2 separate regions of the Homo sapiens genome follow, and region 2 is linked to region 1. The links come from fine-mapping of genetic effects on gene expression. Tissue or cell type: whole blood. Region 1 holds a variant in brackets; the other region holds the start of a gene. All regions are shown on one strand. Distances are from middle to middle.

The links. PIP is the estimated chance that this variant, and not a neighbour inherited with it, causes the effect.
Region 2: FURIN starts here. The variant in region 1 is fine-mapped to the expression of FURIN in whole blood (TOPMed, PIP above 0.99).

What each region holds. Positions count from the first base shown.
Region 1 is chr15:90,815,890-90,824,131 of GRCh38, forward strand. BLM (BLM RecQ like helicase) reads left to right here. Exons shown (of 22, transcript NM_000057.4): 22 at 1-277. Among named protein-coding and RNA genes, the nearest start is that of FURIN, 49 kb to the right of the region's middle. RefSeq lists enhancers at 512-1,343, 1,344-2,173. The variant C/A (reference allele first, on the strand shown) is at 2,882.
Region 2 is chr15:90,864,695-90,871,004 of GRCh38, forward strand. It overlaps FURIN (furin, paired basic amino acid cleaving enzyme), which reads left to right and starts at 3,894. Exons shown (of 16, transcript NM_002569.4): 1 at 3,894-4,017. RefSeq lists enhancers at 4,426-5,625, 4,868-4,917, 4,985-5,279, 5,018-5,127, 5,065-5,359.

The DNA of each region.
Region 1 (8,242 bases):
CAACATGGTGAAACCCCGTCTCTACTAAAAATACAAAAATTAGCCAGGCGTGGTGTACAGGCACGCCTGTAGTCCCAGCTACTCAGGAGGCTGAGGCAAGAGAATCGCTTGAACCCAGGAGGCGGAGGTTGCAGTGAGCCGAGATCGTGCCACTGCACTCCAGCCTGGGTGACAGAGCAAGACTCCGTCTCAAAAAAAAAAAAAAAAAAAGAAATATACATGCTCTGCAAATATGTGAAAAAGGTCAATCTCCATGAATAAAAATATGATAAAACCATGTGAGACCATTCTTTTGCCTACAAATTATCAACACTGGATAATATCCCAGTATTTGGGGTCAGCGAGAAAGATTGGCAGATTGTTTGGGTGGACGTGTGTGGCAGTTGCTGTAGTCCTTTGGTATTGTGGTGGCCTCGTTTTTCAGGATGCTCCATAATGGGCCAATTGGCCCCAGCATCTTTGGTAGGATTTTGGCCTCTCTTGCCTGAACTCCAGTGGCCCCATTTTCGGAGACATGCGTTTCTCAGCTGTAGGTCACCTTTGTCTGGGTGCCACACAGCGAGGAAGTGGCATAAGACAAAACACACACCTCGGCCTGCCCTTTGTGTGGTGTTACCTGTGACGTTACTCAGGAGAGTGTAGCTGGGGAGACCCTGCCTGTGCCAAAGCCAAAGGTGTGAAGAGGGGGTTGATGGGAAGCCGTGTGGCCTCTGCCTGGGGACTCAGTCCTGAGAGGGACCCTGCACCCACCCTGAGGACCCACCCTTGTGGTAGCACACTGACTTCCTGCCTCCTCGGCTGCCTGTGAGCCCCAACTGCCGCCTGTGGGCTTTTGGCTCCGTGTTTAATGGGGGGGACTGGCCAGGCGAGTTTGCTGAGGGCTGAGTGCCATTAGCACGGATGCGTTCCGGATCTGACATTTTCAGAGGTCATCCTTCTGGCCAGAAGAACCTTCTCTGTGCATGAGAAGTGGAAAGGAGACAAAGTAGCCAGAAGTTGATACCCCTGGGGTAATGTCCCCAGCATGAGGCCACCTTGGAGAGTTGCTGATCCAGCCAAGGCATCTGGCAGGAGGCATGTCCGTTCCACCTGCTGCAGCAGCTCTGGCCTTGGTGGTGGGGGTGGACTCTGGCACAGACAGGTCACTGCTGGGCTCTGACCTCATCCACTCGTTCCTTCTGGAGATGGAGCTTATCCCTCAGGGTCGCAGGCTGTGCCTCCAGGAGCTCCCAGGGCTGTGGGGGAACAGATGAAAATAACGTGCATGGGGCCTGAAGGTGGAGAGCAGAGCCATGTGGGGCCCACACTACCTACAGCCCTTCCCCATGTCCTGGGAAGATGATAGGTTGACCCACCCCTGCCTCCCAGCAAGGAACCTGAGGCCTAGAGACCTCTGATTTGCCTAAGCTCAAATGACCACAGGTGGCAGAGCCAGGCCCCACACCCAACTCTTGAAAACATTCTAGGTTGGAACAGGCTCTGCTCAGTTTCTCAGGACCCGGGAGCAGGCACAGAAAATGCAAGCGGCCTCCTTCCTCCAGCTCATCTTCCAGTCCTCTCAGACCCCCAGGGAAGCTCTGCATTCGCCCAGCGCAACCCCAGGAGGGCAGGAGCAGGCAAACTTTCCCTGAACTGATGCCAAGGCTTTGAAGCCAAAGACCGGTCCATGATACAGCAAAGCTGCTCTGGGCTGGGCCCTGCTGGTGGCCCTCCATGGCACAAATCGCCACCACCTGGGATAGGAGAGGGCACAAGTCCACCAAGGAGTGCCAGCCTGGGACCCATCACGGGCCCATCCTCCCCTAGGTACACGAAGGCCTGACTCTCCCACACTCACTTGCCATCCTTCTGGAGGGCACAGGCAGGATTGGAATCTGGCTCTGTAGCTGCACATATGCCCTGCTGAGGCCCTCACACTACAGAACGCTGGCAGGCAGGCCCTTGCTCACCTCCAGGGACAGAGAACCCACTACTCTCAGAGGAAAAGAACAAGCACGGAGAGCCCCTCACCCCACCGGCTCCATGCCAAGGGCTGTTTTGGGAACTCAGGTAATTCACTTCTTCCATCCCTCCCGCAGCCCTGGGAGGCAGGCACATGATGTTGGCCTTTTTTATGCAGAAACCAGAATTCAGAGAGGTTATGTAACTTGCCCAAATCCACGCAGCTGGGAGGTGGTAGTAAGTAGGGTAACACACATCTCGATTTGCCCTGGAGTCCCAGTTTACATCCATTGTCCTGGTGTGATAATTAACACAGTTTATTTTCATTCTCAAAAGTGCTCCAGTTCAGACAACAAGTTCAGTGGCATCAAGAATCTGAGCTCTTTCCCTGAACTATCCAACCTCTTCTCCCAACCCCGCTTTCCACCCAGAGCCTCAGGGGCCACCTGCTGTCACCTGTTCGAAACTCCCAGCCTCTGCTGCAGGCTCCAGGGACAGAGGCTGCAGAATTATCAGCCAGCATCGCTGAGCTGTGGCTTTTCTCCAGAAGAGGAAGCGGAGGCTGTGGTCCAAGCCTTCTCGCTCTTCTTGAGAAACTGCTGCTTCTCCCACTCCTGCAGCCGTCTGGAACTGCTCTGAGGCCCCGAGGCCCACCCTGTCCTTTGGAGGCTCCCAGAGTCCCAGCCCGGCTCTTTCTCTGGCTGGGAGCTGCTGCCTGGGTGGGGAGCAGCAGGCAGCAGCTGTCAACCTCCCCCAGCCTGGGACCCGCCGCTGGCAGAGGCCTCTGGGCAGAGACAATGGGCGATGGGTCTTCTGTGGCAGCTGGGGAGGAATCCCCAGGGGCTCCAGCAGCCACTTCTCCCTCCGTGCAGCTGGCACAGCCCCGTGTGTCCTCAAAGCCAGGGCTCAGAGAAGCCAGCTGGTGGGGCGCACCCAGGGG[C/A]CCCGAGCCTGGCCCAGACCCTGCTAGGTGCTCCAGTTCATGAGTGCAGCAACCACTAGGAGGCAGGGGCTCAACTCTGCAGCTGTGCAGGGCAGACCCAGGACTTCGGGGACAAGCCCCTCGGCATGCAGTAGGCTCCTGCTTTCCAAAACGCACTCACTCTGCTTCTCGGAAAGGCTTCTCGGCTGGCCCACGCTCCCTGTTGGCAGGAGACGAAGGAGGAAGGGAGAAAACCCTCCCTGGTTGGGGTGGGCTGTGTACCCTGCCCCACAGGGTCACCACTGGGAAGAAGGACAGGACAAGAAGGTAGACAGAAGCCCGAAGTAGAGTCCAGAAAGCCCCAGCCATGGTGAGGCGTCCCCGCACAGGCCTGAGGCTGTCCCTGCAGCTAGCCAAGGTCAAGGTCGAGGTTTTGGCATCGCCACACCTCAACTGTGTGGTTCCACGGCCCCACAGAGGGTTCGGTGACGCCTGGGAAGGTGCCGGGTTCCACGGCCCCACAGAGGGTTCGGTGACGCCTGGGAAGGTGCCGGGATCCACGGCCCCACAGAGGGTTCGGTGACGCCTGGGAAGGTGCCGGGTTCCACGGCCCCACAGAGGGTTCGGTGACGCCTGGGAAGGTGCCGGGATCCACGGCCCCACAGAGGGTTCGGTGACGCCTGGGAAGGTGCCAGGATGGCACTCTGATGGTCTCTAGGCTCAGATCTATTCAGGATGTGGGAGTTCACCCCAGAGAGCCTGTCTGTCCCCATGGGTCCCACACACAGGGCCTGTCACACACACAGGCCACAGGCATCTGCCTGTCCTGGCCCCATCTACTCAGTCCCTGCCAGGAGCCACAAGGCCCCATGAAGGTCAGGCCCTGGCACTATGCCTGGGCCAGGAGTGGAGCAGAGAGCTCAGGTCCCTGCTTCCTGTAGGGAAGACTTTCCTTGGTAGGATAGAACCTGGAGCAGGGACTCTTGGGGTGGGAGGTGGCAATGGTGCCCCGGGAACTGCTGATGCGGAGTAAGGGTCTGAAGAGCCACCACTACCAGATCTGAAACCCCCGCCTAGAAGGAAGGACATCAGAGACACTGAGAGACTCCTGGACTTCTGCCCAGAGCCCTGCTCGGGCTCAGAGAGGGGTGGCCCCCTGCGCTGTGGCCCCCACCACTGTGGGAGCGTTGAGACGCTGTGACAGGGAGGCAGTTAACACTGCTAACCTCAAAGATGAACTCAGCAGTCAGCACCAGGGAGATCGGAGGTCAGCCCACGCCAGCCCCACCACAGACACCCGCCTGCATGGCTGGATGTGCATATAAGGACAGAGACCCGTGCGGCCACCGTCGCCACCAGGTCCCTTGCACCCAGTGAGAGCCAGTCTGGAATGGGCGGGACCTGGCCCCTTCCTCAGCCATGGAGTGCCCTTGGCAAGTTCTGTGGCCTCTCAGAGTCCCAGTGTCTCATCTGCACCATCAACATGCCACTTGGTCCTGGCCTCCGGGGCTGCTGCAGCATCCTTTTGGTCAGATATTCCACAAACATTTCTTAACCAGAGCAGAGCTCCAGGCATGGTTCAGCCTTCAACCAGGGCACAGGCAGGGAGGGAAACGCCCCGGGGGAAGGAGAGAGCAGTGTTGGAGTAAGTGGGGTGAGGGTGAAGACCCCAGGGCACCTGGGCCAGCAGGAGTTGGGGAGGGTGCCCAGGAGGCTGAAACGGCCAAGTGACCTCCAGGCTGACCATCCCAGTGTCCAGCCACCCCCGCTGAAGCCACCCTGTGCTCTCCTTTGTGGTCCCTCCTCACCTAGGAAGAGCAGAAAGGACACAGCACCCACCCGCGGGACCCCTTTCCTGAGCAGAAAGTGCCCTGTGCCAGCCTGGCCACCGCCTCACTGTGAGGATATGCACACTCTAGGCTGGGCCACCTGGCTGTATGAGCCCCAGCCCAGCGAGCGGCACAATGGGGATGACCCCAGCACACCTGCCAGGACCCCTGCCCCACAGGGCCTGCCACTCCCTCCACAGGCCTCAGCTTAGGGTCTGTACCTTTGCCCCAGATCTGGGTTCCAGCCCCAGGGACTTGGCACACAGCCGGTGCCTAATAACAGCTTGTTGGATGGATAGATGAGCGGATGGGCGGGTGAGTGGGTGAAGGGGCGCTGCGAAGACATCTGTCTCATTGCCTTCTCATGGGAGGATAAGATAGGAGGAGGAGACGGGGCCTCAGGCTGGCAGGGCCTTAAAATCCTGCAGCCCCACGGCCAGCACCAGGCAGTGGGGACGGAGCCCCAGGTCACTGAAGGCTCCCTTGTTACTTCTGCTGGCTTCATCTGGACAAACAGAAGCCGCTTTCCAGCTGGCTTCAGCAGTTTTCACTTAGATTTTCTTCTTTTTTTTTTTTTTTTTTGAGACAGAGTCTCACTCTGTCACCCAGGCCAGAATGCAGTGGCGTGGTGGCATGATCTTGGCTCACTGCAACCTCCGCCTCCTGGGTTCAAGTGATTCTCCTGCCAGGTAGCTGGGATTACAGGCGTGCACCACCACATCTGGCTAATTTTTGTATTTTTAGTAGAGACAGGGTTTCACCATGGGGGCCAGGCTGGTCTCACACTCCCCACCTCAGGTGATCTGCCCGCCTCAGCCTCCCAAAGTGCTGGGATTACAGACGGGAGTCACCATGCCCAGCCTAGGTTTTCTTTTCCTTTCTGTTTTTTATTTTCGTTGCTGTTGTTGTTGTTTGAGATAGTCTTGCTCTGTGGCCCAAGCTGGAGTGCAATGGTGGGATTCTGGCTCACTGCAACCCCCGCCTCCTGGGTTCAAGCAATTCTCCTGCCTCAGCCTCTCGAGTAGCTGGGACTACAGGCGCGGGCCACCACACCCGGCTAATTTTTTGTATTTTTAGTAGAGATGGGTTTTCACCATGTTGGCCAGGCTGGTCTTGAACTCCTGACCTCTCAGGTGATCCACCCGCCTCGGCCTCCCCAAGTGCTGGGATTACAGGTGTGAGCCACCGTGCCTGGCCTAGGTTTTCTTTTGCTTGTGTACCAATGTTTTTGGCTGGTTGGCGTCTTGTTTGTGCTGAAATAGCAAGCCAGTTTTCCTCACTTTGGAGCTGCATTGTCTATCATGTGAAGATGTTCATAACCACCAGTGTCTGCTTCTAGCTCTTTCCTATCCTTTGTTTCTGGAGTTTACTTGTGTGTGAGGAAGGCTTTTGTGGGGACCAAGGTACATGGAGCAGTTGGGAGGTGAAAGTTTGTCACTGGGTCCTACCTGTGCAGAACGTCAGTCCCAGCCGAGAAAGCAAGGGCCAGGGCAGTAGTTCTCAAACTTGTGTTAGCCTCAGTCACCTGGAGAGCTGGTTGTGCCATGGCTTCCGATGCAGCAAGTCTGGAGTGCGCCCCAGAGGTGTGCATTTCCACCGGGTCTCCTGGTGGTCCCGATGCTGCCAGCCCCAGGTGAATACAAACCACAGCTGCCGAGAATTTTAGCACTGAGGTCTTGGGCAAGGCATTCTCCTCTCCTTCATCCTTGGTTTCCCATCTGCAAAAGTGAGGGAGTAGGGTGCAGTGGCTCACACCTGTAATCTCAGCACTTTGGGAGGCCAAGGTGGGAGGATCACCTGAGCCTAGGAGTCTGACACCAGCCTGGGCAACATAGCAAGACCCCGGTCTCTACAAAAAAATTTAAAAATTAGCCCAGCTGGTAATGTGCTTCTATAGTCCCAGCTACTCAGGAGGCTGAGGCAGGAGGATCTCTTGAGCCTGGGGAAGTTGAGGCTGCTGTGAGCCGTAAGCCATGACCATACCACTGCACGCCAGCTTGGGCAACAGAGTGAGACCCTGTCTCAAAAAAAAAAAGTGAGGGCATTAGACTCCGTGATGGCTGTCACCTCCATCCTCAAGTTGGACAAGACTGTCGGGGTGGGCTGGGGATCTGTGGGAGGGAGGGTGTTTGAGAATGTGGAAGTGGAACAGCCTTGCACGGGAGCTGTTTTCAGGAAAGGGACTCATGACAAAGCCAGGGTTCTAAGCCCCTTCCAACACCAAAGGGCCTCTTAGAGAGAGACTCAGAACTTAAAGGGAGACTCGGCAACCAGGAAGCAAGTAGCAAAGCATCACTCCAAGCAGGCATTTTGCAGTGTATGAGAGGCAAAGGAAACCTCCTTTAAAACTCTGGAAACAAGCATAAACTGATATTTCCCAGGCCCTGCCAGCCTGGGAGTCAAATGAGGTCATGTTACCACCCAAATCTGCCTGAGAACAGAGTCCTGTCTCCCTGCCGGGCCAGGCAAATGCCACTTCAAGATACAGTCCGTTGAGAACCCCTAGACTGGGACCTTAAGCTGCAACGTGTGATGAAGGCTTTCTAGAAAAATGCAATTGCAGGGTTGGTCTAGAGCCCGCTTTTCTTGCCTGGGCCCCAGCAGGATCCAGTGGCCTGAGCGGGGAACAGATTCAAGTCCCAGAACAGGATGGGGGACAGCCTCACCTACCAATTTCCTTTCCATTCTTTTTTTTTTTTTTTTTTTTTGGAGACAGGCTTTCGCTCTGTCACCCAGGCTGGAGTGCAATGGCGCGACCTTGGCTCACTGCAACCCCTGCCTCCTGGGTTCAAGCGATTCATGTACCTCAGCCTTCCAAGTAGCTGGGACTACAGGTGCCAGCCACCACGCCCAGCTAATTTTTGTATTTTTAGTAGCGACAGAGTTTCACCATGTTGGCCAGGCTGGTCTTGAACTCCTCACCTCAGGTGATCTGCCCGCCTCAGCATCCCAAAGTGCTGGGATTACAAGCATGAGCCACCATGCCAGGCCTGCAATTTCTTAGACTATTGAATGGCCCTGGAGTCAGATTGCTTGGGGTCAAAGGCCACTTTTACCACCTGCTGTGTGACCTTCAGCCCTTGAGCAAGTTATTTAACTTCTCTGTGCCTCAGGGAGCTCATAACAGCACTATACTGTGGGGTGGTGCCAGATCTGTCTCATAGACCCTGGCCAACGGATGAAATGAGTTCTCAGACACAGGCATACAGCATAAGAGCAGCTGGGTGACTGCCTGGCTCAAGTGGCCAGAGAGCAGCCCCAAGAAGCTGGAGCTGCTTGCTTTTATTCAGTGCAGGCACAATGTGGAAAACCTGGAGCCGACACGACCTGCAGGTAACTGACAATTACTGTGGCCAGGCACGGTGGCTCACGCCTCTAATCCCAGCACTTTGGAAGGTCAAGGCAGGTGGATCATGAGGTCAGGAGTTCAAGACCAGCCTGGCCAAGATGGTGAAACCCCGTCTCTACCAAAAATACAAAAATTAGCTGGGAGTGGTGGCACGCACCTGTAATCCCAGCTACTCGGGAGGCTGAGGCAGGAGAATTGCTTGAA
Region 2 (6,310 bases), 48 kb after region 1:
GCTCACTGGTTTGTAAGTCATTCAGGGGCTGGGCGCTTATAGAGTCACTCAAGGCGGTGACTCACACCTGTAATCCCAGCACTCTGGGAGGCCGAGGCAGGTGGTTCACTTGAAGTCAGGAGTTTGAGACCAGCCTGGCCAACGTAGCAAATGAAAACCCGTCTCTACTAAAAATACAAAAAATTAGCTGGGCGTGGTAGCACATGCCTCTAATCCCAGCTACTCGGGGAGGCTGAGGCAGAGGCTGCAGTGAGCTGAGACCGCACCACTGCACTCCAGCCTGGGTGACAAGAGTGACACTGTCTCAAAAAAAAAAAAAGTCACTGGACTCCCCCAAGCCAGTCCCCTACATTTCACATCAGGAGGGTCACCTATGGTGCCTCCTGCGTCGGGCTGTGGTGGGTTCCCACACGAACCCCCATATCTCTACTCCCCATGGTAGTCAGAGGAGCCTTTAAAAAGGGTAAATTTGCCGGGCACGGTGGCTCACGCCTGTAATCCCAGCACCTCTGGAGGGGGAGGCAGGAGGATTGCTTGAGGCCAGTCTGGGCAACAGAGTGAGAGCCCATCTTTTAAATTAAATTTAAAAATATAAAAATAAAATGGCTGGGCGCGGTGGCTCACGCCTGTAATCCCAGCACTTTGGGAGGCTGAGGCAGGTGGACTGACTGAGGTCAGGAGTTCGAGACCAGTCTGGCCAACATGGTGAAACCCTGTCTCTACTAAAAATACAAAAAAATTAGCCGGGTGTGGTGGTGTGTGCCTGTAATCCCAGCTACTCGGGAGGCTGAGGCAGGGGAATTGCTTGAGCCAGGGAGGTGGAGGTTGCAGTGAGCCGAGATTGCGCCACTGCACTCCAGCCTGGACGACAGAGCAAGACTCCATCTCTAAATAAATAAATAAATAATTTTTATTAAAGGGTAAATCAGTCAAATTTCCAAAAGAATTTTGAGAATCCAGAGCCCATTGCTCTGATAATTAAATTCAACATCTGGACCCAGCTTGGCAAGTGCTCTGTGATCCAGCCCGTTACCTACCTCTCATCTCATCTCTCGGCCATGCTCCAAGAAGTGTCTGCTCCCCAAGTGCATAAGCTCATGCCCCCAGGCCCATGTCCTTGCCTCTCCCTCTGCCTGGGACACTCTTCCTCCAGATCTTTACACTTTTGCCTCTTTTTTCAGCCTCAGCTCAAACATCACCTCCTCCCAGAGGTCTTCCCTGACCACCCCAGGGATAGCAGCCCTCCCGCTTCCCCAGGCACTCCCACATTACCTTCTTTATCATTTTCTTCCAGAGCTCTTAGGATGATCTGAACTTCTCTCATAAACTGGCTTATTCACCTGTGAACTGCCTGCTTCCCTCGCTATAACTGAAGCACTGGAAGAGGTCCTGCACCCAGCAGGCACTCAATGAGTATCTGAGGAATGAGTGAATGAAATGCCCAGTGCACAATCAACCTCCACAAAAGCAGTTTTTCTTTTCACATATAACTCATCGCTATCACAGCCCCTCTCCTTGCTCACCCGCCTCGCTGAGGGGCTCCTGAGAACCTCCGTAGAGGTCTCCATCAGCCAAAAAGCATCTGCACCGTCAGAGAGGGCCCCTCACTGCCGCTCGCAGTGCTCCCTGCTGCCACGTGCAGCCCCTTGAGCATGAGCCTGTTGACACAGGTTGGCACACGGTGTCTGGCTTCTGTAAATGCTCTCTGCTCCCAGGTGTGCCGTGCCCCATTGAAGGACAGCACTCACACTCCTCCAGGTATTAACTGACTTTTTCCCCAGCAATGTTTGTTTTAGGGATTAAAGTTTGTGGAGGAGCCTATAATTTCCAGACTCATCTGTTCCTTTCCTGGCAGCCAGCACATTTGTCATTCTATTTTTCCCAAGTCCCTGATAATACCGTTCCAGACATGTTGATTTGATGGCATCAGTCAACGGAAAGACTCTCTGGGGCCTGCCGTAGGCCAGAGGACAGGCTCTCCGGGCCACACTCAGGGGCGACTGAGCCAACTCTTCACGCCATTCCTTTCCTTCCCTGCCTAGGACGACCTTACAGCCCATGATCGCTTTTCTTCTTCTTCTTCTGTTTGTTTTTTCTTCCTGTTTTCTTTTTAAGTACTACAGTGACCCCTTATTTATTCAGCAAAGAAATGGACTACTCCACAGTAGTGAATTTTCAAAATAATGCCCTTCAAGCACTAAAACTTTAAACAACACATCTTCAAAACAGCTTTGCTGAGGTATAACTGACACACTATAAACGGCATGGATTTAAAGTGTACAACTTGATATGTTTTGATATATGGACACACCCATGAAACCATCACCACAATCAAGATAATGAACATGTCCATCATTCCCAAAAGTTTCCTCCCGCCCCTCCCTGCCCCCTTCCCCAAGCAAGCACTGATCTGTTTTCCAAATACGTCTTTAATGCTACAAGGGCTCACACACCTCCCCACCTTAGAAAATGGAGTATGATCAACATGATTGATCCTTTCCTTGATTCAGCATTATCACCAACACGATGGAAAGTGATCTCAGATGTCATGAGGATGCATGATTGTTTGCCCTGATCACTAAACGGCCCATTGTTGTGCTGGCATACTGGGCAGTTTCAAGTTTGGGAGTTTTCTCCCTCACTGCTAGCTGTCTCAGAGCTTAGTTCCCAGCAGACAACTCTTGCTGCCTCGAACCCTGGCACACTAACCACCATCCTGTGACGTTCCCACTCCTCATTCTGCGACAGTGGTTCTTTGCTGGGAGAGATTTTTGTCTCCCAAGGGACATTTGGCAATACCTGGAGATCTTTTTGGTTGTCATCATGGGAGCGGGAATGCTACTAGCAGCTAATGTTTAGTGACTAGGGATGCGACTGAACATCCTGCAATGTAGAGTGCAGTGTCCCCTACAGAGAATTATCCGACCCAAGATGTTGATAATGCCAAGGTTGAGAAACCCTGTTCAGGATGACAAACTGATTGAAAACTCAACAAGGGGACCGGGCGTGGTGGCTCACGCCTAATAATCCCAGCACTTAGGGAGGCCGAGGTGGGTGTATCACTTAAGGTCAGGAGTGCGAGACCAGCCTGGCCAACATGGCAAAACCCCATCTCTACTAAAAATACAAAAAAAAAAAAAAAAAATACGAGTGGCGTAAGCCTGTAATCCCAGCTACTTGGGAGGCTGAAGCATGAGAATCGCCTGAACCCAGAAGGCAGAGGTTGCAGTGAGCTGTGATCAGGCCATTGCATTCCAGCCTGGGCAACAGAGCGAGACTCTTGTCTAGAAAAAAAAAAAACAAACCCATAAAACAAACAAACAAAAAAAACTATGAGGATTGAGTGATTCACATTTCTGAATCGAGAGAGAGAAGGATGGGCAGCAGGCTTGTTGAAGCTGGAAGGCCAGGGAGGTCGCAGACTGAGGAAGACCCTGGTGTGTCCCAGGTACCTCCATGCAACCCTACTAGAGAGGTGGTCTCTGGCTTCCTATGGACAAGCTCTAAGGGACCCAGCTATGGGGCACCAGAGCCCAGCGTTCAGCAGCTGCTCAATGAATGTCTGCCAGGCGAGACTGCACCCAAAGCATTTATTAGGTACATAATTGTGGCAGCACTGGCTGGCCATGGAAGGCAAGGCAGAACACAAGGAGCTGGAGCTGGCGGAAGGAAGTCATTAAGTCAGCCAGTGGCTGGGATGCAGCAAAGCCAGGCAGAAGGTAAGTGCAGACCCACCCCAATAAATGAGGAAAATGAGAAGGGCTGGCTGGCCATGTTAGGATCCAGTTCCAGTGCGACCAGATATGTCACCACCACATCACTTTTAGCTCCTCCCCCCACCCACAGACACCCTGTTTGCCTGTCATATAAAGAAGGTTTTCCCAAAGTGGTTTAGCCAGAACTGGAAGGGCCCCGCCCTGTGAAGGGATAGGAGCCTGACTGTTGCAGCTGCAGTGAGTGGCGGGGAAGCAGCAGCGGCCAGGATGAATCCCAGGTGCTCTGGAGCTGGATGGTGAAGTATGGACATGCTTTATTCGATTTTGCATTGACTTAAAGGTTTAATTATTTTAGGAGTTCTTGTAGACATTCCTGAAAAATGCAGGTAGGCAAAAAGAAGAAAACAAAGATCGCAAATGTGACCCTTTCATTCGGAGAGAACACCAATGGAATTTTGTTGTGCACCCTTCTATGCACGTCTGAATGTTGTGTAGACATTCTGCTTACAACTAGGTGTGGGTGCTGCTGCCGAAGGCTTTATTTGCTGTGCCTGAGGTGGACCAGAGATTTCAGAGAAGACTCCCAGAGCACCCCAAGGAGACAACAGGAGTGCTTGGAGTCAGGATGACTGGGTGGATTTAGGACTATGTGATTCTCAGGAGCCTCTCTGGATTAGCCCCAAATCAAGGATAAAGAGAGGCCTAGCTGGACTCTTCCTCCCAGAGCCCTGCTGGGAAAATGGAGCCCCTTTACAGCCCCCACTTACCCATCAGGCCCTGCTCCTCTCACTCATCTCCAGACTTCTGTCACATGCCCAAGTCCTGCTAACTGCTGTGTAAAACTGGTAAGGTGGGATCCAGAGGACCTTGGGCCCCTAGGGCCCCAGGTCAGGAGACCTGGGCTCCAGGGCCAGTTGAGAGTGATAAAGAGAACAATACCTGCCCACAGGACTTGTTGCAATGAGATAAAGGCAGAAGTCACCAGTTGTGGTCAAATGGGATTTTTTTCCAGAGAAGTCTCACAGAGAGTGGCTTTCAAATTCTTTTTAGCAGCAGAATTGTTGTAAAATACAATCTCATGTGAAACCCTAAAATGTGAGACACTCTGGGTGAAGCAGAGAGAGGTGCTCAACTGCCCAATCCTGTCCTCATTCCTCCCTCTCAGGGAGGCACCTCTGAGAACCCACTTTAAAGAATTTTGCCTTATGCAGATTGAAGAGGCAAGCTGGCTGGAAGAAACTGGGAAGCTCCACTTCCCACCGCCTCTGCCTGGGTGGCAGTCATCTGAGCCTAGGCTAGCCCCTCCCCCTCCAAAGACCCACTGCGGGCTCCCCTGGGGCCAGTCTCCAGGATGGGTGGGGCACCTGAAGCAGCAAGTATTGCTATTTTTCTGGGCTGACCTTTCTTCTAGGCCTGAGGACAAGTGGGTAGGTGGGGCCAGCCCTGTCCCTGTTTCCCCTCAATGGAGTTCTCTTGCTCACAGCCTAAGGAAGAAGCGTGAGTCACTTCCTGCCTCAGTCTGACTGCTGGAGTATTGTTCTCCCAACTGTGGCTGGCGCTACCCAGTGTGGCCCCTACAAGTCTTAGTTCCTTGGCGGAGGGGAAGTCCCCACTTTGGGACAAGGCCAACTGGACTTATCTTCCCGCTCAACTTTGAGGACCCAGCATTGTTCCTCCAGTTTCCAGTTCTTGCAGTGTTTGTAAAGGTGCCCGAATCGTACCTGATCCCATTCACTAAATATTATCTCCATTTTATAGAGGGGTAAATTGAGGAAGTCCCTGAGAAATTAACTTGTCTAAGGTGTCCCAGCAAAAAATAGTGCCCCAGGGATTTGAACCGGTTTGCTGATTGATTTTTCACCAGTTGCCTTAAGAATTATCATGATTTAACCTCTCTGGGCCTCAGTTTCCTCCTCTATAAAATGCAGACAGTGATACATCAAAGGTACTTAAAGGAAAATGTACTGTACCCACCTCATGGGGCATGTGGTGAGGATAAAACGGGTTGACACAGGAAAAGAGCTCTCAATGGTGCCTGGCTCATAGAAAACACTCAGTGGATTTTTTTTTTCCCATTACCCGGGAACCTGTGTTAAGGAGGCCACAGGCTGATCCTGTGCAGCCAGGTTATCTCACAGGGAGCGAGAAGAGATGGGCACAGGCTACTCTGCGACCTTGGAATAACCCAGCCTGGGAAGCTCCTGGCCACATTTTCCTTCTTTTCTTTCTCAGCTCAAGCAGCGTCGGCCTCAGCCAAGTAGCACAAACGTTTTCTAGGGCCCAGGGAGGGAGAGGCTCCGGCTGGTATATTGCAAGTAGCTTGGATTCAGGCTCTGCCAAACACCCCAGTCTCTTGCAGGATCTGAGGTCTGCTGGTTGTGGGACTTTGCGCAAATTATTTAAACGTTGTGCGCCTCAGTTTCCTTATCTGTAAAATGGGATTAATAATCTCAGCCTGAAAGGATTATGTGGATTAAATCATGTACATAAGAAGGAGATAATGTAAAGTGACTGGCCTGGTGCCTGGCAAGCGGTTGGTGTCTAAAAAGAAAAAAAAGCTAAAAATATTAAAAGGAGGTGGGCTACTTCTGCTC